Regions from separate parts of the Homo sapiens genome. Here region 1 is linked to region 2. The links come from fine-mapping of genetic effects on gene expression. A gene starts in region 2. The other region holds a variant in brackets. All regions are shown on one strand. Distances are between the middles of the regions. Region 1 overlaps PPP2R2D (protein phosphatase 2 regulatory subunit Bdelta). Region 2 holds the start of PPP2R2D (protein phosphatase 2 regulatory subunit Bdelta).

Region 1 (10,079 bases), 45 kb after region 2:
AGCACCTGGGAGGTTGGAGTTCAGATGAAATTCAGAACACCTCACAGGTGCAGTAGCACAGGTTGCAGGTCGAAAGATGAGCTGTGGGCCACAGGTACATTCAGGACGCTTCTCGGGGAATTTCTTTGGGGTTGGTTTAGGCAGATGCTGATGGTTCAGAACTCTCCACCTGTCCATCCATGAGCATCATTACTTTTTTAATTGTTAAATTATTTGCTCCATTGTTGGTAGTATGAAATGATCATATTTCATCAATTCTGATGCCTAAATTTTTTCATATTTTAACATTTATGAAACCGGCTAAAACTCAAAACCTCAATGTCTTATAATTGGCCTGGTGCTACGCACCACTGATGTTGTCTTAAATTAGATGGAACATGGTGAAGGGTGTCCGGCAAACTGGGCTCGAGCCCAGGTGTGTCTTGGTGAGAAACCAGCACCTGTGCAGAGGTGTGTCCCCTGGAAGGAAACTCTGCCTGGTCCCAAGGGGGTGCCGTTACTAGATTGGAAAACCGTTGGTTGTTTGGGTGGTTGGGTGGTTTGGTTGCGGGGGGTGGGTGGTTGAGTTGGGTGGTTTGGTTGGTTTTTAATGAGATTTCAGCCCCTTTTACACTATTGTTTATCAAGTGAAGACTGAGTGAGTGAGCCCATTCCACATTAGTCTTGGAGAGTGCTACAGAGGACGCTGTACCGCAGAAGCCTTTCCCTAACACATGTGCCTCTGGGAGTGATGTTGGGTCTGTTCTGATGCCATTTCTCCAGCTTTGCCGTGTGGGGTGGCTACACCTGGGGTTGTGCATTCCTCAGGAGGAGTGTCCTCAGACTTCTCACATCGATGTTGTCACCGTATTTCCTATGAGTTCATCAAAGCGAGAAAGGCTGTGGCATTTGCTGAAAATCTAGTTTATAGGGTCCTAATTTGAACCAAGATGTTTTGATCCAAAATGTTGGTGATGTCTGATACACAGTGCTGCCGCCTTTGCACCCCTGAATTAGTGTAAATCACTTTTAGTGACAGTAACACGAGTTGTGCAGTTCCATCATCATGAAACTGCTGATCCTAAAGTAGAAGTGTGATGGGACCCCCGAGGGTGGGCACTTGACCCCCTCCAGCCTTGTCCATCTCTTCTGCAGCCAACACCACCTCCCACCCAGTTACCTGTGCACACCCCACCCTCAGAAACCCCTGTTCCTCCTGATCAGACCCTGCCACAACCCATCAGCTCACGTGCTCATTTTGGGAGAACAGTAGGCCTTTACTAGGCCCAGTCTTGGTTTTATTCAAGGCTGCTTTTGTAGGTTTAGCCTAAATAAAACGGGTATAATTGGTGGCCCTACTGAAGGTGTGTGAGAAGTCTAGTTATTTCATTAGTTGGTGCATGGGGAAGAGACCACAGACAGGTAATTCTGTACATTGACTTAGGTCGGTATTTGAGATCTTACCTCTCTAACAGTTCAGAGTGGGCTATTTATGTATCTGAGCCTAACTGGGTAAGAGTCAGACATGTTGCTGTTTTTAAATTTTTGCTCTTAAATTATTTTAGTGCCAGAAAAGGGATATAATTAAAAGAAGAAATCTTGGCCAGGTATGGTGGCTCATACCTGTAATCCCAGCACTTTGGGAGACCGAGATGGGAGGATCACTTGAGCCCAGGAGTTCAAAGACCAGCCTGGGCAACATAGCCAGACCCCATCTCTAAAAATGAAAGCAAATTATTTTATATGCAAATTAAAATGTTTTCAATAAAAGAAGGAATCTTTGTAAGTATTGCAGCTATCATATGTTTTGATTAATGGGAAATTTGTTAGAGGATTGGGGTAGGTGTGTGTTTTTAAGCCTGAACTTGGTAGAACTGACTCTTCTTGCTCTAGAGAATCCAAGGGTGTGGTCAGCACTACCTGGGTTAAAATGAGGGAAGCCTCCCTACACACACTTTTCCAAGTTGGTTTTTTACAGAATTCAGCCAGACAAGACTCAGTTGAGAGCTTTTCTTTTTCCCCTAAGCTTTCAAGGCTCTCCCTTTTGGTTTCTAATTACAAGAATAACAAAAAATACTATCATTAATTTTTTGTTTTGATTTTAAAGCTTATGTTTTTCTTCCAGCTGGATGTTAGTGAGACACAGGCCTTTTTCCTTTTTTCATGTGTGATGCTATTCCTCACGCCTGAGCTCTCACCTCTGACCATAGGCGGCCTGCAGCCAGCGCCCACTCCTCTCTGTCCTTTCTATTTCTGTGCGAATTGGGCTTCCCTAGGAAGCCTCCCTGACCACAGCACTCAACACAGAGATGGGGGCGGGAGGTACCTTCTACTTTTTGTTTTAACCTCAAGTGAAGTGTAATATATAATACATACCTCCAGATAAGACATCTGCCCTATAAGTGACCAGCTCCATGAATGTTTGTAGGGTGCACATGCCCATGTAGCCAGCCCCAGACCAAGAAATGGAATATCCTCAGCTCCCCAGCACCCTGCTGTGCACCCTGCCAGTACCTGGAGCCAGTGGAGGTTTGTGGGGTTTGCACCGAGAAGCATAGTCCTAGTGCAGTGAGAAGAGGTGTGTGCATCTAGCTGCAAGGAGAGGACAAAGGGAGGGGTGCAGCTGAGCCACCCAGGAGGACTTTGCTGTCCAGCGCCTCAGTGTGGCCACTGGAGGACACACAGGAGAGGGAGCCGCAGGCCTCGGTGCCTGGGCAGTTTGTTACCCTGCCAGCTGATCTTCTCTTCAGCAGGAACATGTCGACCTCGGTAATGGAAGCAAGGGGAAGACTTGGAATAGACAGTATTCCATTTTGTAGCATATTTTCATAACTCTGCTAATTGGTTATTTGGGGGTATTGCCTGTACAGAATTATTACTTAGCCATGAATATAAACTTGTCCTCTTTCGTTATCTACTATAAGTGTTCTAATTATGTGCTGCTGTGATCTTTGTTTTGAATTCCTATTTCCTTCCATTTTTAGGTCCCAATATTGAAGCCCATGGATCTTATGGTAGAAGCGAGTCCACGGCGAATTTTTGCAAATGCTCACACATATCATATAAATTCCATTTCAGTAAATAGTGATCATGAAACATATCTTTCTGCAGATGACCTGAGAATTAATTTATGGCACTTAGAAATCACAGATAGAAGCTTTAGTATCCTTCCTCAGAGGGACACTGGCGTCTTCCCGAGGGTGCTCTTTAGATAGTAATTTCTCTCGTCCCTTTATACACCTGTATCTCGGAGTCTAGTCTTGTAAATACCATCACTGCACAGCAGCCTGTGATGTAAGTTCTCTGTGATTTGAAATGTTTGTCCCTAAAAATACAAATTTCTTTCTACCTTTGGGAAAAAGTTATCTGTATAATGGGAATTACCTGAAGTCCACTGCCTGCCTGGTTTAATCAGAGGCAGTTTTAAATAGGCTACATTTGAAAAACCAACATTATGTGTTCTTTTTTTTTTTCTAAATTTGCTAATGAATAATAGAAAATACTGGCTTAGGTTAGAGCAGTGTTTAATCACCCATCTGAGCAGCAGCTTCCAGTTAGAACCTGTGTTCTTCTGTGGCTGTGCACAGTCTGGGTGGCCCCAGCCCTCCTCACATGGGCCCCTTTCCAGCCAGCAGCCGGGAGCATGGGGCTTGCTTCGTCTGCAGCCTCTCCAGGGTCCCTGCCGTCCTCCCTCTGCTGTCCAGTGGCTTGAGCTGGGGTTCCATGTCGTATGTTGGTTTTCTTAGTTGTTTCAGCTTGAAGGGTGAAACTGGGACTGCTAGTCTGAATTGGCCCACAGCTGAATTCTGCCCTTTCTTATTTTTTTCAGTTGAAGGATTTCTGTATAGGATTTCTGTTGGATCTGTTCTAGCTACACAGAATAAGCTCTTC[A/G]TGTCAGGAAGAGCAGCATCTTTTGGAATTTGGCGGCATTCTTGTGTTGTAGTTTTGTGTGGGAGTGTGGGATTTTGCACAGATGGTACTAGCTTGGTTTTCCTATTTATATGATTAAGTATGTACTATCTTGCTATTAAGGGCTTTCTGTATAACATTAATAATAGCAGCAAGATGAAAGCGGTGTTCGCTTGTCTGTGTCTCCCCCTGGGCCGGGGCGTTGCTGTAGTCTGAGTGTGCTCATCCCAATCCCCTTACCAGGCGCTCCTTTGGAATTCGGGATGTGTAACCAGCCTTCTTAATAGCTAATCCCTTAAACCTCACTGCGTGGATTATTTGGCGTCCTATTTCGCGTGACTGAATGTAGACTAATTAACAACCAGCTGAGCTGAGCACTGTGCCTTAACCATGCACTCCCAGACATCGTGGACATCAAGCCTGCTAACATGGAGGAGCTGACCGAAGTCATCACTGCAGCCGAGTTCCACCCGCACCAGTGCAACGTGTTCGTCTACAGCAGTAGCAAAGGGACCATCCGCCTGTGTGACATGCGCTCCTCGGCCCTGTGCGACAGACACTCCAAGTGTAAGTGCGTCTGTTGTTGAGATGGAGTCTGGCTCTGTCACCCAGGCTGCGGTGCAGTGACACAGTCTCGGCTCACGGCAAGCTCCGCCTCCCGGGTTCCAGCAAGTCTTCTGCCTCGGCCTCCCGAGTAGCTGGGACCACAGGCAGGTGCCACCATGCCCAGCTAGTTTTTGTATTTTTAGTACAGACAGGGTTTCACCATGTTGACCAGACTGGTCTGACCTCAGGTGATCCCCCTACCTCGGCCTCCCAAAGTGCTGGGATTACAGGTGTGAGTCACCGCACCTGGTCACGCCTGGCGTCTTTTAAAGCATCTCATTTAGAGCCACTTGTTCTTCAGACACTCCAAAGACTTAGAGAGTTCTTCCTGTTCCCCAAGTGCCTTTGCACAACTGGGGAGCCCTCCTTTGCTGGGGCCGTCCGAGTGTGGCTGTGTCAGAGGCTGCTGCTAATAAGTGGAACTCGAGGTCATGCTTCCCACAGGCTTATGGCTGTAGGGTGAGTGTGCTTTTGGCACCACCGAGAAGCGGGGTCACTTCTGCCCAGAGCCTGGGTGTCTCCTCAGAGGCTGCCAGCACTGAGTCCCGCCAAGAGCCACCCGTTGCCTCTGCCTCTGTGCGTGAGACCTGGGCTGAGGCCGCCAGCACACAGGAGGCCATTCCCAGCTGTTGGAATGAGCTCCTGTTCATGTTGAGCTTGGCTGGATTGGAAGCCACTTCCCTTAGCTGAAAGTCTAGCATTTTAATCCAGTGAGCTTTCAAGCTCCTTTTAGGTGAGGGAGGTTCTGGTTTTGTTTTTATTTTTAGCCATAAAGAATGGGCTTGACTTTATAGAGCACTGTAGTCAGCGTGTCCCAGTGTCCTGAAACATTGCTGACCCTTCCTCCAGTGCCAGCAGGTAGACACACGTCCAGTGACTTCCTCTGATGGGGAAGCCGCCAGTCAATCCCACCAGACTGAGCCGCTGCTCATGTGCAGCGGCGCCCCCAGTGCCTCGGTGGAATGTGCCCATGGACCGTGTGCAGCAGCCTTTTCGCCTGTTCTCTTTCCTGAGGTTGAGTGTGTTTTTAAGAATTCGTATTTCTACTAGAATTCCTGCGATGAGGATGAGTGTTTCGTAGCATTTGGCCTGTATCTTAAGCATAAAATTCTTGAGTAAATAATTTCAGATTCCAGTTCTATTTGTCATCAGAGTGATTTATTTGAGTAAATGCTTGGCGTCGGCACAGCTGGCTTCAAGTTAATTTCAGATGCTAAGCCGACAAACACAGGCTCCTGCATCAAGAAAAAAGAGAAAAAACCTAAAGCAGCTTCAGGTCAAGGAAGCACAAGCCAGGTGCAGTGGTGCTCACCTGTGGTCCCAGCTACCCTGGAGGTTGAGGCGGGAGGATCTTTCTGAAAATAGGAATCCAGTTTTGTCACAGTAGAGCTTGTGTATATTCAGTATTGGAGACAAACCTTGGCTGGCTGGCTTTGACCGGCGGGACCGTCTTGGTGGTTAAAATCAGGACCACAGCGTTGCCAGTCAAGGTGGTCACTCCTGCAGACCCACAAACTGTCGACCCTCCAAAAAGCAGGCAGTTTCTTAGAGGCACAGACCGCTGTGTCTGCATGACCATATAATGCTGTTTGTGTCTTCCTGTGATGTGTATGCGATAGAATTTCACGTGCTCGGGCCTGGTGCCATGAGGACGCGGAGACACTCCTACAGGAATGCGGTGGTGCTGAACCTGGGCACACATCAGGATGCCCCGAGGAGCTCCCACAGATGGCAGTGCCCAGGACCTTGCCTAGAGATTCTCATTCAGGGTCCGGGTGAGACTTGGGCGTCTACGCTTCTCATGCCCATCCCTTGTCCATAGCTGGTGCTAGAATGTCTTATCCGAAGCTCTTGCCCACGGAAGTCACAGAAGATCAGAAAACCTAGAGAATCAGAAAGATCAGAAGACCTAGTGTTGAGGCCAAGCCCTTCCAGAGTCTCTCTGAAGGGGCCACTTCCTACTTGAACTTGAAAATGATTTGTTCTCTGATTTTTAAACAGAAGCTGAAAACATTTTATTTTGTTTTTCAGTTTTTGAAGAGCCTGAAGATCCCAGCAGTAGGTCCTTCTTCTCAGAAATAATTTCATCCATATCCGATGTAAAATTCAGTCATAGTGGGCGGTACATGATGACCAGAGACTACCTGTCGGTGAAGGTGTGGGACCTCAACATGGAGAGCAGGCCGGTGGAGACCCACCAGGTCCACGAGTACCTGCGCAGCAAGCTCTGCTCTCTCTATGAGAACGACTGCATCTTTGACAAGTTTGAGTGTTGCTGGAACGGTTCGGATAGGTAAGGCCTGCGTGGAGATGAGCTGTCGCCCCAAGCTTGCTGGTTTCCGAGAGTGCAAGGTCAGTGAGGGAGGCGAGCTGTCCTCCAGCGTCAGAGGAGGACGCTCATAGGGTGTTGTTTTCCAGACCTTTTGATTGATGGATGATAGTATCAAGGTAGAGAAAATAGGATCTCTGAGCAAGTTTCTCACCTAGCTTGTCATTCCATTTATATTTAGACAAGAAGTATAGCACTAGGTACAGGCCGGCTATGTGTTAAATGCTTAGTGAATGATAGTGTATTACTTTTTATTATGCTGATAATGAGTGAAAAGGAAGGAAGTGGGGAAGTGATTCACCTCACTGGAATGACCGCGTTGCAGTCTGCCTTTCCTTCTGGAGAGAAGTAGATGAAAACACCCCAGAGCCACTGCCTGTCATGCCCAGACACAGCGTGGTCATGGCTGGTCTGAAACACCAATGTAATTTATAATGTGATGGTTCTAGTACCTTGATAATTTATTTTGTATACATTCTTTAAAGATAGCTATGATTAGTGTGGTTGAGAGTTACGTTTTTTTTATTATGCAAAAAGTTACGTTTCAGATGATGGAAGATTGTCTTGCACCATTTTTATATAGAATTTTTGTTCAGAATTCAAGAGAACAGAGGAGTCTATTGGCAATAAGTGATTGACTGGATATTCTGCAAAACCCTCTGGCATAAACACCTAGAAATGCTGGATATGATACAGCAGGTGTCTCTTCAGGTGCATAGTTGAGCTCACAGATAAGCAAGGGAAATCTCACAACGGCCAGAAACTAAGAGGGAGCTGAAACCAGAATGGCAGCCTCTGAAGGCGTCTATTCCGAGAGCAGCCTTGCAGCCCCGGCTGGCCTCAGGAGCATCAGCCCATAGCAGGAACCACTGCCCCTGTGAACAGCAGGTTATGGTGCAAAGCTGAAGCCTTGTCCCACACGAGGTGACTTGCTCATGGTGGCTTTTCCTGTATGTGCTTGGTAATTTTCAAGAGCTGAAGCCTTGGCCCACACGAGGTGTAGAGTTGGAACAGGGACCCCTGAAGATGGTGTCTCCCTCCACTGGCAGATAGGGTCCAAAGGGCAGTTTGTCTGTCTGAGGCCTTGCATGGGGGTGGCCAGCACTGCCCTGAGAAGTGGAAGCAAAACCTCCCCTCACAAGGGTTTGCAGTTTGGGTTTGTGCCAGCTACATCATGATCTGTAAAATCTCACACTGTGGAGCTCCTGCCTCCACGAGGGCTGTGTGCGGGCATCGGGAGGGACCGGCGTGTTTCCAGATCTGGCTTCTACTCTGTTTGCAGACTGACCTGCCAGCCTGTAGCATCTCACGGATGTTGACTGAAGACATGAGGTTCCCGGGTTCTCATGGCACAGCTGGCAGCATGAGCCTCTCGTTGGCCTGGGTTCCCCACGGGTGGACACTTGAGGCCGTGGCTGATGCACACTGAGCTTGGAGAACCCCACTGCTTTCACAGCGGGCAGTAAACACACCTGCACTTTGACTAGAAGAGACATGACCTCATTCCTCAAGGCCGCTTGCTGGAAGCACAGCCCTGAGAAGTGGCCCAGGTGGAGAGAATGGCATTGGCAAACTCCGTGAGAACACGCATGCTGGGTAGCTGCTGCCAGCACACCCAGGTCTCTCTGGATTTCGTCACATTAAAATCATCTAAACATGAGCTCACAGGTGAAAATTACCAAGCACATACAGGAAAAGCCACCGTGAGCAAGTCAGCAGAACCACAGCAGAACTGAACCTCCGAGAAGGCAGCTGTTGAGATCCTAAGTTAAAGAAGATAAACTAAGAATGCTTGAGATATTCACAGACTAGAGGAAGGAAACAGCCTGAACCAGGAGCCACATGACCGCTAAACGTGACCTGGAGACTGGAAAGGAATCAGAGGGAACATCTAGAAATGACAAGTATGATACATGACCGCCAAACATGACGTGGAGACTGGAAAGGAGTCAGAGAACATCTAGAAATGACAAGTATGATACATGACCGCCAAACATGACGTGGAGACTGGAAAGGAGTCAGAGAACATCTAGAAATGACAAGTATGATACATGACCGCCAAACATGACGTGGAGACTGGAAAGGAGTCAGAGAACATCTAGAAATGACAAGTATGATACATGACCGCCAAACATGACGTGGAGACTGGAAAGGAGTCAGAGAACATCTAGAAATGACAAGTATGATACATGACCGCCAAACATGACGTGGAGACTGGAAAGGAGTCAGAGAACATCTAGAAATGACAAGTATGACAGATGAAACTGTGTGGGTTTAGCAGCAGGTCCATTTTGGCTAAACAGATCTTGTATTAGTGGATGGAAAGGAAAACCAGAAGAAATGCGGGCTAAAGAGCCAAACAGAAAACAAGAGACACTAGGAACCGTGGAGGCCAGGGTGAGGCACAGCACACGTTTAAACAAAGTTTGGGGGTGTGAGGCTTAAAGTGACAGTGGCCAGCAATTTTCTCTAAATTATGAAAGCCTGAATACACAGGATCGGGAGCACAGCATCCATCCATCTCATAATGAAATTGCAGGACACCAAACGCAAAGAGAATATCTTAAATGCACCCAAGGAAAAAACGCAAATTACCTCTGAGAGCGGACACCGAGACTGAGACTCGGCTTTGCCACGGCCACAGTGGGAGCCAGAAGCCGTGTGACAGATCCAGCAAGTGTGACTCCTTACTCTCCACCGCCAGCTTAGAATCAAGCCTTGAAGTAGATGCTCGTTCAAGAATCTGCTTGTGATAAAGGCATTTTCAAATGGGAAACAATGTATCACAACAGGAAACTCAGTAGAGCGAGCTGTAAAGGGAGCCTGGCCCTGCAGAAAGGGGCTGAGACAGATAGGCAGAGGAACGCAGCCTGCAGGGAAGAGCAGTGCAAACTCTGAAGCTCTGCCACCTGGACGGCCTTAGTTATCTGTGTTTGGGGGAGAAAAATTAGAGCCCTCACCAGCCCCACACAATAAATAAATAAGCTCTGAGTGTTTCTAAGCCTAAGACATCTTTGTGAGCTCTGGAAACAAGGGCTTCTTTAAGAAGGCCCCAAAAGCCCAAGGAAAACATTAAGAAATTCAACTACATTAAATTTTAAACTTCTTTATATTGAAATTAAAAGTGAAAACAAAATCCACAAAAGGATAACGAACAGAGATTAAGTATCCAGAATAGGTGCAGAATTAGTTGTCAACAAGAAGGTGGCAAACAACTCAGAAAAGAGCAAAAACCATGAATGGGGTTTCGCAGAAA
Region 2 (12,863 bases):
GAGTCGGAGGTTGCAGTGAGCTGAGATCACGCCATTGCACTCCAGCCTGGCAACAGAGCGAGACTCTGTAAAATAATAATAATAATTTAAAAAAAGAAAATTAAATAAAACATATTTTAAAATAAAGGTATTTGGGGGAAGTGTGATTTGCAGACTCTTAAGATATAAAGTCCTTCATAGACTTGAAGAAAATTTATGGTAAGTTAGACTTTAAAATAATTCATTTGAGCTCTTTCCTTTTGCTGCTGTGGCCGCAGCCATGAGCACGCTCAGGCTTCAGAAGAGGCTCGCTGCTAGTGTCCTCCGCTGTGGGAAGAAGAAGGTCTGGCTGGACCCCAAGGAGACCAATGAACTCGCTAATGCCAACTCCCGTCAGCAGATCTGGAAGCTGATCAAAGATGGGCTGATCATCCCCAAGCCAGTGACTGTCCATTCCAGCTCGATGCCGGAAAAGCACCTTGGCCCGCCGGAAGGGCAGGCACATAGGCATAGGTAAGCAAAAGGGTACAGCCAATGCCCGAATGCCAGAGGAGGTCACGTGGATGAGGAGAATGAGGATTCCGTGCTGGCTGCTCAGAAGATACCGTGAATCGAAGAAGCCTGATCGCCGTATGTATCACAGCCTGTACCTGAAGGTGAAGGGGAATATGTTCACGAACAAGCGGATTCTCATGGAACACAGCCACAGGCTGAAGGCAGACAAGGCCTGCAAGAAGCTCCTGGCTGACTAGGCTGAGGCTCGCAGGTCTAAGACCAAGGAAGCACGCAAGCGCCGTGAAGAGCGCCTCCAAGTCAAGAAGGAGGAGATCTTCAAGACTTTGTCCAAGGAGGAAGATACCAAAAAATAAAAGCTCCCCCGTTGTCCGTACATACTGGCCTCCGTGATTACATAGATCAGCCATTAAAATAAAACAATCCTTTAAAAAAATCTGTTTTATTGAGGTATCATTCACATACAATAAAATGGGTCCACTTTAAGTGTCTTTTTCAATGAGTCTTGACAACCATTCGTGCTGCATTAACAGCTGCGGCCATCAGGATGCAGAACACTTCCATCAACCCAGGGAGTTCTTTCCCACTCTCTCCAGTCCATCCCCCACCCTCTCCAGTCAATCCCCACACTCGTGCCCCATGCCGTTTTTTTTGAGATGGAGTCTTGCTCTGTCACCAGGCTGGAGTGCAGTGGCGCGATCTCGGCTCACTGCAACCTCCGCCTCCCAGGTTAAAGCAATTCTCCTGCCTCAGCCTCCTGAGTAGCTGGGATTACAGGCGTGCGCCACCACACCTGGCTAATTTTTGTGTTTTTAGTAGAGATGGGGTTTCACCATGTTGGTCAGGCTGGTCTCAAACTCCTGACCTTGTGATCTGCCCACCTCGGCCTCCCAAAGTGCTGGGATTACAGGCGTGAGCCACCACGCCCAGCCCCTGTGCCATTTTTAAAATCACTGTAGAGCAGTCTCACCTGTTCTAGAACTTCAGGATTCTTCAGAGAAACCGTGTATGGAATGAGCTTTATTTTCAGGAACTCACTCACACAATTGTGGAGGCTGACAAGTTCAAAAACAGAGGGTGCACAGGGTGAGCAGGGCAGGCCGGCAGGCTAGCTCAGGCAAGGGCTGATACAGCAGCCTGGAGGCAGAATTTGTTCTCCAAGAAACCTCAGTATTTGTTCTGAAGGCCTTTGATTGATTGGATGAGGCTCACTCATATTATCAAGGGTAATCTCCTTTTCTCAAAGTCAACTGCCTGTGGGTGTTAACCACATCCACGAAACACCCTCGTGGCAATACTTGGCTTAGTTCTGATGAAATAACTACATACTATACCCTCGCTACATTGACACATGAGACTAAGTATGATAAAATAAAGGGGCGCATGCAGCTTGCACGCCTCCGTGTCTGGCTCCTTTCATTTTCGTAATATTTCGGGGACTCATTTGGGACTGCTGTTTGTATCAGTAGTAGCTCATGCCTTTTAGTTACTGAACAGTACTGCCTTCTATGATTACAATAGGCTAGATTCTAATACACACCAGGCATTTTCAATTCAGCTGTGAGATCTGAAAAACAATTTTAAAAAATAAAATTGCTGTCAATACTCAGAAACTTGTAAACACCAATTAGAATCCAAACAGAGAAATTCATTGAGCTATTAGGTTGGCGCAAAAGTCATTGTGGTTTAGCCAAATATTTTAAGTTTTTAGCATCATAAGAAGAATAGTTAAAAATCTCTTTTTAAAAAATAGTTAAAAATCTCTTGCTGGTCAGCTGATGCACAGTGGGACGCAGGGAAGGCAGCCCCCCAGTCTCAGGAATATGTTACTTTTGTGGCTATATCTTGTTTTTAGTTTAATTTAATGGGAGCTAATGAACCAGAAAATACATTCTAAACAAAAACTAATTATCTTGTCATCACTTCAAAAGACATATTTAACACACATTAAAGCAGTTACATAGGAACTAAGAATAAAATCCTACATCCCCCACTGGCTGAACGAACACCCCTGTGGCCAGGGGGGGCCCCAGGAAAACCTCAACACTGAGGCTATAATGGGGGATGGGAGGTCAGACAGGCCTCCTGATACCCCCGCCCTTTTGTGGTTTGGACACAACAGACCAGCGTTAACGTTAAACTAGAGACCATAAGACTGACAGAACGGACTCTGTGGCAGTAAGATGCCAAATCATAAACAGGGCCTAAGGCCGTGCGGGGGGAGGGTGAAGCCACGCACCGCACACTTACAGAGAAAACGTCGTTCCCACTGCTGTTGGGTTTTCCTTCCCTCCAGCAGCTAAATAAGCACTGGCCTTGATAGGAGCAACATTAAGCAACTGCAGCTCCACCAGCCACTAAGTGACCCCCAGCCCTGCTCCAGCAGCCGTAACTACAGCTTTCATTGGACAGAAGACTGTAACTGTCTCCTGATAAGAAACCACCGACCTTGGACTGGTTCTGGCCGGTTTACAGAGGTTGCACATCTGCATGCCTTCCTGTCCTGAAAAGACCTCTTGAGGTACAGGGCCTAGTCCTAATTTACTTATTTATTTATTTATTTATTTATTTAGAGACGGAGTCTCGCTCTGTCGCCCAGGCTGGAGTGTAACGGCACGATCTCGGCTCACTGCAACCTCTGCTTCCCAGGTTGGAGGGATTCTCCTGTCTCAGCCTCCCAAGTAGCTAGGACTACAGACATACGGGCGCCACCACGCCCAGCTAATTTTTGTATTTTTAGTAGACAGGGGGTTTCGCCATGTTAGCCAGGCTGATCTCGAACTCCTGACCTCAGGTAACCTGCCAGACTTGGCCTCCCAAAGTGCTGGGATTACAGTCGTAATATATTCAAATGTTTAGTCTCCCCGACAGAGTGAGATTGGGTCCTATGTTACATAATACACGTGTCAGGAGCCCCTTCCTGAGTATTCATAGCTCCTCCCAAAGCCTGTTGTCTATGTATGTTTAGCCAACCCGTTCAGCATAGAGCTCCTGCCCCAACTCCTCCTCCTACGAAGAGCCATCTCCCATCTTGGCCTGGGGGATGGCCACCTTGCTGGCTGTAACCATTTATAAGAAATAAAGTTCCTCTTTTTCTAAATTTATAAATTGTCAGGTTTTTAAGTTAACAAATAAAAGAGATCTGGTCATTAATTCAGGTTTTCAAGTGTCTTCCTGGGCAGATAGGCTAAATCTACATTTTAAAAACAAGATTACAGCCCCATTTTTCTGCTCTTCTTCTCCTCAACAGAGAAGTAGGTATTCACTGCCTCTAGTTCCTCTCCTGCCACTGTCCCCAGAGCCCTCTGCAAACTTGTGATCTGAGTCCATTCCATAGCCACCGCTCCGTCCAAGTCAGTAATGGCCTCCCAGTCCCTACAACCAAATGGTCACTCCTGTATACTCATCACATAGCATCACAGAGCAGCCACTCCCTCCTGTCTTCAGTGGATCCTGGAGATGGGTTCTCCAGGAGCCCACCTCGCAGGCTGCTCACTCATCCTCCACGTCCTCACCCCTTCAGGGCTCTGTCCTTGGTCCTGTCCCCCATCTGTCCTCCCTCCTGAGGTGACCTCACCCAGTTTCCTGACTTGAAATGACCTCTAAATGCTCTCACCTTGATGCTCTGGCTCTGACTTCCCTGTGTGCTCCCAGCCTGTCTGTGCAACAGCACTATGTGTTGACAGCGAACCTCTGGTCGGGCTGCACCGCCCCCACCCAGCTGTGCCTTCTGCTGCAGAAACTCCATCCTTCCAGGTGCTCAGACCACCCGAGAGCAGGCATTCCTAAGTCCCTGCTTTCTCTCACACCGCATCTTTTCCATCAGCAAATCCCAGGGGCTCTGCTGTCGAAGCACTTTTCTCTGAAATCTGACTGGTTCTCACCACCCCACCCCATGTTCACCACTCTATCCTCATCCCCATGCCTGGTCAGCCCAGCTGGCCACCTGATTGGTCTCCCTGCTTCCCCTCTTTGGGTCCCCACAAGCTATTCTCAGCAGAGCATCCAAAAGCCCAAGTCCATCACGATCGTCTTCTGTTCATGAGCCCATCTCATTCAGAGTCCAAGTCCCCTAAATGGCCTGCCCACTGTCCATCCTCCTCCACTTACCTCCCTGCCTTGACTCCAACCCCTGGCCTCCCCTCCACTCACTCTGCACCCACGCAGCTTCTGGCTGCCTCCTGCCCATGCCAGGCATGGCCCTCCTTCCTGTCCTGGCACTTGGTGGTCTCCCCTTCCTGGCCAAGCTTTCCTAGACGTCTGCATGGTTTGCTCTTTATCCTTGAGTCTTCTCCAGTCACCCCGTGCAAGACTCCAACTCTCCCCATACACATTTCCTTCTTCCCTGATTTTTCTCTCCAGCTCCGACTTATTATGTATTTATTTCCTTATTGTCTGTCTCCCCCACTGAAAGGTAAGCTCTACCAGGGCTGAGATTTCTCTGCTCTGTTAACCTCTCACCCCCAGGGCTGTGGAGTGTGCCGCACGTGGCAGGAGCTGTCAATAAATAATATTAATGGAGTGGACGAATGTTCCTGATTTGCAGCGACTGTCTTTTAGTGGTGCAATACCATCAGTGCCCACCGCAGCTACCCTGAAAGAAGTTCTGATTCCGGACATCAATCCCATAGGGACAGTCCCCCTGATGATAGCTCGACTTCAGATTTTTCAACTTTACGACGGGTAGATTGGGTATTAGATGCATTTTTGACTTAGGAAGGGCTTATTTGCGGGGAGGGTAGCCCCACTGTAAGTCGAGGAGCACCCATGATCGCTCAGTATGCCAGAGAAAACCACCCGCAAATGAAACGATCGGCCCTGTTTCCCTAAGACTGCACTGGGAGCTCCAAGAACCCCTAAGGTAGCCATCTGGTGAGCAACGGTGCGCTCCGAAAGGGAGGTGGACAGGATTGGGAGACCGAGGCCGGCAGATGGCTCGAGCCCAGGAGTTCGAGACCAGCCTGAGCAACATAGACCCCCGTCTCTACAAAAAATTTAAAAATCAGCGAGCCTGGCGGCGCGTGCCTGTGCTCGCAGCTACTTCCGAGGCTGAAGCAGTAGGATGGATTGAGCCCAGGAGGTCGAGGCTTTTAGGGAGTCGAGATCGCGCCCCCGCACTCCAGCCCGGGGAACAGAGCGAGACTCCGCGTCGGGGGCAGTGGGCGGGAGGCAGCGCTCAGGTACGGCGCGCTCAGGTGAGGCCGGCCCACATGCCCGCCCACCGCCGCCAAGCGCGTCCTCCATTGGCGGTTCCACGGAGAACCCACGTTTCCATTGGCCGATGCGGGATGGGGGCGTGTCCGGCCAAGCGGCGCCCTGAAGGCGTGTCCGGCCGCAGCTTAGGCTCTCCGGGAGTCCCCGGAGAGTAGGGGCGGCCGGCGGCGCTAGTCTTCTGGGGAGCGCCGGGTGCACACCGGACCACTGCGGGAGGCCTAGGGCCGAGGGCCGAGGAGCTGGCCTGCGCCCGGCGACCCCGGCTTCCCTCCGCAGTCGCCCAGGCGTCCCTTCCCCCCTACAGCCGAGCGGCGCCGGGCGCAGGCGCATTGGGCGCCCCCGGCAGCCCCCGCGGCCCGCCCCGTCCGCTGCCCGTCCGAGGAGGCGGAGGGCGATGACGTCATCGAGCGGGGCGACGGGCATTGGGCGCCATTTTGAAAAGGGAAAAAAATCCCTCCCCGGCGGCGGCGGCGGCGGCGGCGGCGCCGGCGGTGGTGGCGGCCCCGGGGCTGAGCGCTCGGCTGCAGCGGCGCGGAGGCCGTCTCCCTGGTCTGCCGCGGTCCCCGCCCGTCCCGCCGCCGGCTGCCATGGCAGGTGAGGGGTCTGCGCGGGCCGGCGGGGACCACGGGGGCGGGCGGGGGCCGCGGCCGGCCTGACCGCCCCGTTGTGTTTGCAGGAGCCGGAGGCGGCGGCTGCCCCGCGGGCGGCAACGACTTCCAGTGGTGCTTCTCGCAGGTCAAGGGGGCCATCGACGAGGACGTGGCCGAAGGTGAGCCCCGCGCCGCGCCCCGCCCCGGGACCCTCGCGGACAGCTCCCAGCCCGGCCGCGCGCGGCCTCCGGGCCCCAAGCGTCCGTGGAAGGCAGGCAGGAGGATGGGGGCCGGGCGGGGCAGGGGCCAGGGGCCGAGCTGGGGGCCGTGATCGGGGGGCGGCCGTCCTCTGTCCGCTGTCCCGGCCCGCGGGGCACGGGCGGAGGCGTCGGGCCCGCGGCGGGACTTATGTAAGTCACCAAGGTCACGGGCGGCCGGGTCCTCCGAACCCAGCGCCTGGGGCTGCCTCCTGCCCGGGGCGGAACCGAAGCCCGGGGCTGCCTCCTGCCTGGGGCGGAACTGAGGAGACCGCGGCGGAGCCGGGGACGGGAACGGAGTCCATATCGTGCGCTCGGGCAGCGCGGCACAATGGCCCAGAGGCTGGGAACGCGCCTAGGGCTGGGTCGGGGCCTCGGCCCCCACCAGGCTCTGCGTTTCATCGGCGGTGCGCTCTTGAGCGAGCTGGTTGCCTCGGCTCCCTGATTCTTAAGGTCTGCTTTCTGCGGTTCTAAAATCCTTGAATTTTACTGTGAGGTACTGCTACTTTCTCTACTGATATATTTTAAGGTCTCTATTCCAGATTTTAGTCTTGAACTTCATGGTATTACTTGAAGTTCACTGGTCTTTTCCTTAAATCATACTCTCAAATTGGCCCAGGCACAAAGTTTTAGGGTGGTGGGAGGGAACTGGGAAGTGCCTCCCACCCCAGCTTCCCATGAAGCTTACCTGTCACCTTAAAGTTAAAAAGCTATGTAGCTTTCCTTTTTCACCGTTGAATGGAGAACTTGGTCGAGTCTTAGAAGTTTGATTAATATTTCAGATTCAGAGTCATAGTGACTTTTTTGTTGTTGTTCATACATCTTACTGAACATTGTAAACCTTTAACCTTTTCTTAAAAATGATTGGTGTTTGCACCAAATACACCTTCCCTGCCTCAAGTTACTAAAAGCCCCTTGTCAGACGTCCTGTTCACTTCCCTCCATCTCGGCCCCCCCAACCCCGTGAACTTTTACTCCCTCTTCCCTACCCTGTACCTCTCCCTGGCAGTGTCTGGTTTGGCACATGACCCCTGAGGACATCTGGAGATTCTGCGCCCCCTGGGACAAACAGGGCCTAGGTTATTAAGCAGGTGAAACTGGGCTCTAAGAAATGCGTAATATATATGGTTTGAGATTAAAACTAGGTGCATTTTATGTGATCTAAAAAGTTTATTGATTTTATTTCTTTAAAATGCATTACTTTTTTTGTTTGATTTTGCATATGCTAAGCAAGTGACAGTTCAGCCTTACTCAAGTGTGATTTCTGTCGCAAGTAAAGCAAAACTTGTTTGGGAGTAGGAAAGTGAGAGGGCTTAATGCTTGCCTTAATTTCTGTTAACTCTTTATTTTGTTTTTTGGAGACAGGGTCTCACTTTGTAGCCCAGGCTGGATGGAGTGCAGTGGTGCGATCTGGGCTCACTGCAACCTCTGCCTCCTAGGCTCAAGCGATTCGCCCACCTCAGTCTCTGAAGTAGCTAGGACCACACACACGCGTGCACCACCACACCAGGCTAATTTTTGTATTGTTGTAGGGGATTTCGCCATGTTGCCCAGGCTGGTCTTGAACTCCTGGGCTCAAGTGGTCTGCCCACGTCAGTCTCCCAAGGTGCTGAGATTATAGGCGTGAGCCACCGCACCTGCCTGGTTTCTTTACTTAAAAAAAAAAAAATTATTGATAAGCTGAATGAATTAAAATTTAAGTATAACTAAGGTAGTATATTTTAAATGTGACTGTACACATATGAAAATAGTATTCTTTCTTTAAAAAAAATCTTGGGCCGGGTGTTGTGGCTCATGCCTATAATTCCAGCACTTTGGGAGGCCAAGGTGGACAGATCACTTGAGGTCAGGAGTTTGAGACCAGCCTGGCCAACACAGTGAAACCCCGTCTCTGCTAAAAATACAGAAGTTAGCCGGGCGTGGTGGCACATGCATGTAATCCCAGCTACCTGGGAGGCTGAGGCAGGAGAATCACTTGAACCCGGGTGGTGGAGGTTGCAGTGAGTGGAGATCGTGCCATTGCCCTCCAGCCTGGACAATAGAACAAGGCTCCATCTCAAAAAAAAAAAAAAAAAAAAAAAATCTTGACAAATACTTTGTTCTCTGAATTAAACTGATGGGAACTTTTTGCAGTTTTAAATCCCTATTTTAAGTTAAATTTTGAGTAAATCCAAAAGTTTGGTATTTCGAGTTGTCGTGGTTTCTTTTGTAACATTGCTTTGTGGTAATTATCTGCATGTGTTTTGGTTATTCTGTGTATTCAGAGCTGTCTATTTTAATCCATGTATGCTTTGGCCATAGTAACCCATCCAGATTAACACATTTATAAGTCACCATCGATTTGTCCCATAGTTGTGATACCGTTGCTTTGTATTAACACCAGAGAGTCAGTGATGATGAAGGGAAGTGTAGTCGTTAGTCACCAGGGATTGCTGAGCAGCAAGGATCAAGAAGCTGGTCATGCCCAAACGCAACCTTGAGGGAGAGATGTTGGTGAGAGATAAGAGATGGGTGGCTGGGTACGGTGACTCACACCTGTAACCCCAGCACTCTGGGAGGCTGAGGCGGGTGGATCACTTGAGGTCAGGAGTTTGAGACTAGCCTGGCCAATATGGCGAAACCCCATCTCTACTAAAAATACAAAAATTAGCCAGGCGTGGCAGGGCCGGCCTGTAATTCCAGCTCCTCAGGAGACTGAGACAGGAGGATTGCTTAAACCTGGGAGGTGGAGGTTGCAGTGAGGCGAGATGGTGCCATTGCACTCCAGCCTGGGCGTCAGAGCGAGACTCCGTCTCAAAAAAAAAAAAAAAAGGAGAGAGATGGCCGGGCGCAGTGGCTCACGCTTGTAATCCCAGCACTTTGGGAGGCCGAGGCAGGCAGATCACAAGGTCAGGAGATCGAGACCATCCTGGCTAACACGGTGAAACCCCGTCTCTACTAAAAATACAAAAATTAGCCGGGTGTGATGGCGGGCGCCTGCAGTCCCAGCTACTTGGGAGGCTGAGGCAGGAGAATGGCATGAACCCGGGAGGCAGAGCTTGCAGTGAGCCGAGATCGTGCCACTGCACTCCAGCCTGGGCGACAGAGCAAGACTTTGTCTCAAAAAAAAAAAGAGAGATGGGCAGTTCACAGGGGTTTTTATCGTGCACTGCTGCTCAGGCTGTAGAACTTAAGGTATAGCAGATTTTGTTTGTTTAGATTTGTGGCTTGTGAGGCATTTTGTTCTTGAAGGTTTTGTTCTGGGCCAAGTTCAGCTCTGTAGAGCTTTACTACAGCCCTGCACTCTGGCCGTCTTTCTGCCCTCTCTGCAATGGGTAAGGAGAAGGAGCCTTAGAGATTAAGGCCTGGGTCCTCTCCTGACTTCAGTGGGGTGATGCCCAGTGCACAGGAAGTGGTGCAGGGCTAGGAGTAGGCACTCCTGACTTTGGAGGTCATGAAGTGAGTGACATAGAAAAGCCTTTGGTTTTTGTTTTGATTTCTGTTTTGTTTTTAAAACTAATAGTTTTGGGCTGGGGAATCAGAATCAACCTATGGTGAAAGTGCTGGCCTATGTAAAATTTGATGCGCACCCCACCCCCCTTTTTTTTTTAAAAGAATTGGGTTTAGCTATGGGTCAGGTCATTTTGCTAAGAGTTGTGATTCCACTGGGTCATCAGACTTCCCATCCCCCTGCAGGTAGGAGTAGAGCTGAGCTCACAAGGAAGTTATTAAGTGTCCTGCTGATGAGCAGGTGTATAAGCAGCAGTCAGTGGTGACTTGCATCTCCTCCCTTTGCTGGAAGGTGGGACTAGGTGAGTTTATATGCTGAGTTGACCAAGAGTTAAAATAGTAAAACCAGGGGGCTTCCAGCAGGAAGCAAGTAGAAAAGTTGTTTGTTAGCTTCTAATTCCACGATGTTGCGGTTCTAAACGGTGGCTCCTTTCTGGAAATTGTTAACTGTTGTGCAGATTTTTTCTGCATGTTATGGAATCACCTTCACCCAGCCCCTGCTCCCTCTCCTGGAACGTACTTCATTCAGCATGTGATGTGTTTTGCAATGTCACATGGTATTTCATCCTTTGCTTCTCTCTCTGGTAGACTGAGCTCCTCAAGCTTGAAGGCTGGCTGTCCCCCTTCCCACCCCAGCCCTTGTAGAGGACCCAGCACGAAGGTCATGATAGGTAACAGTTGCTGAGTGGTCATTCTGTGCTAGAGATTGCTCGCAGTGCTTTTCCTATGTCAGTGAATCTTCACACCACCGAAGAAGGAAGGAAATACTGTTCTTCCCAGTCTCAGATGCAGAATCCGAGGCGTGGGAGCAATTAACCTGGGTCACAAAGCGAGTGTATGGCAGGGCCAGGGTTTGGAGCCACGCCGACTGGCCGCAGAGCCGTGGAGCGCTGTACTGCTTCAGCGACCATTTGCAGCCAGCACAGTACTGATGAAGCCCCACTGTGGCATGCGGCCGTCCAGCCTTGGGATGGAGCTGTTCTTCTAAAGCTCGGTGAAAATCTTACTACCAAGAGGCGTGTGAAAATGCTTTTGAAGGCAAATGAAAATGGAATGCCTTTAAAGGAAGTCTGTGTCAAAATGATAGAAGATTAGTAACAAGGATTCAAGAATAGCATCACTTTCCAACCAATTCTCAAACTATTTGAAGAGTAGATACCACAGAGACAGTAAGTAAGTGAAACACCTGCACGTCAAGCAAGTGCTGCAGCACCTTTGCCTGTGATGTCACTTTCCACATGACTGCAACCTGCTTACCTGCAGGGAAGCTATGGGTCTTGCTCCTTTATATATTACACTAATTGCTCCTATGGAGAAACCGTGGGGAGGGGTTGGGGGAGGAGGGTCTTATATTGAACCTGGTTTTATATAGCTTTATAGCTTGATAACAGCTGGTTCCTTTCTTCTCAGAATTTGTAGTTTTAAGTGTATTGGGGTTTTATTTGTTGATTTTGCTTTAATCAGTTTCTTAATCCATGATCTGTTGCTTTGAATTAGACATTAACCTGTTTCTAAAGAGATAGACTAAACAAAACTAAAGGTTTGTTTGCTTAAGTCAAGCTTGAGTCTGGGGAGTTATGTAAGTAACATAGATATCTGGTTAATCTGGTAGGATAGCCTTTCCAAGGGAGTTTACATTGGTACTTTGAAAGAAACATTTTAAGTCGCAGAAAGGTAACAAAAATTAAGTTAACTGTAGCATCAGCACCAGAAAGTTACTGTTTCATTGAATGTAAGATAATGTCTGGCTCGGTGGCTCACGCCTGTAGTCTCAGCACTTCAGGAGGCCAAGATGGCAGGATCCCTTGAGCCCAGCAATTTGAGACCAGCCTGGGCAACATAGTGAGATCTTGTCTCTACCAAAAAAAAAAAAAAAAGAAAGAAATTCGGGACGTTTGCCAGGTATGGTAGTACACACCTGTAGTCCCAGCTACTCAGGAGGCTGAGGTGGGGGCATCGCTTGAGCCAGGGAGGTTGAGGCTGCAATGAGCTATGATTGCACCACTGCACTCCAGCCTGGGCAATAGAGTGAGACCTTGTCTCAGAAAAAAGAAAAAATAATAATAATTATATATGTATATATATAATCTTTGAAATTAGGTGTGTCTTTTATATATAATCTCCTATAATGTCTTTTATATGTATATATAAAATCTACATCTAATTTCAGAGATACTAAGATGTGGGGAAATGTACTTAGAATCAATGAAATACGGTGTTGGTGAATGCAAAACTTGTCAGTCATATTTATTGATTTCTTCTGTGTACAGATAATGGGCATTTGGTATTTATTCATTTATATTTTTTTTTTGGTCTTAATGGGACATGGTGTCTGCTTATTTGAATTATTTCCGGTCTGATTTCTATATTCCATTGTAGAATTTTCATTTACTTAATATTTATATCTGTGCCATTGAAGAGAACCTTCAGGAAAGCATCCTCTGGGGAAGGCCATCAAACAAGCAAACAGTCTAGTAATATTTTGCAGTTTGACTTATGAGAGCTTCATAGGAAGCCTCTGCCTTTAGGAAGTCAGTTGTATGCCTTAAGATTCACAGACTCGCCGGGCGCAGTGGTTCACGCCTGTAATCCCAGCACTTTGGGAGGCCGAGGCGGGCGGATCACGAGGTCAGGAGATCGAGACCATCCTGGCTAACAGGGTGAAACCCCGTCTCTACTAAAAAAAATACAAAAAATCAGCTGGGTGTGGTCGCGGGCACCTGTAGTCCCAGCTACTGGGGAGGCTGAGGCAGGAGAATGGCATGAACCCAGGAGGCGGAGCTTGCAGTGAGCGGAGATCACGCCACTGCACCTCCAGCCT

The links.
Region 1: its variant is fine-mapped to the expression of PPP2R2D in lung (GTEx, PIP above 0.99).

The regions. Positions count from the first base shown.
Region 1 is chr10:131,941,005-131,951,083 of GRCh38, forward strand. It overlaps PPP2R2D (protein phosphatase 2 regulatory subunit Bdelta), which reads left to right. Exons shown (of 9, transcript NM_018461.5): 6 at 2,964-3,141; 7 at 4,291-4,455; 8 at 6,526-6,787. Among named protein-coding and RNA genes, the nearest start is that of BNIP3, 36 kb to the right of the region's middle. RefSeq lists enhancers at 3,951-4,780, 7,479-7,980. The variant A/G (reference allele first, on the strand shown) is at 3,871.
Region 2 is chr10:131,894,856-131,907,718 of GRCh38, forward strand. It overlaps PPP2R2D (protein phosphatase 2 regulatory subunit Bdelta), which reads left to right and starts at 6,153. Exons shown (of 9, transcript NM_018461.5): 1 at 6,153-6,300; 2 at 6,383-6,475. The coding sequence starts at 6,294. It also overlaps the pseudogene LOC100134362. RefSeq lists an enhancer at 5,413-5,512 and silencers at 5,753-6,262, 6,333-6,732, 6,913-6,962.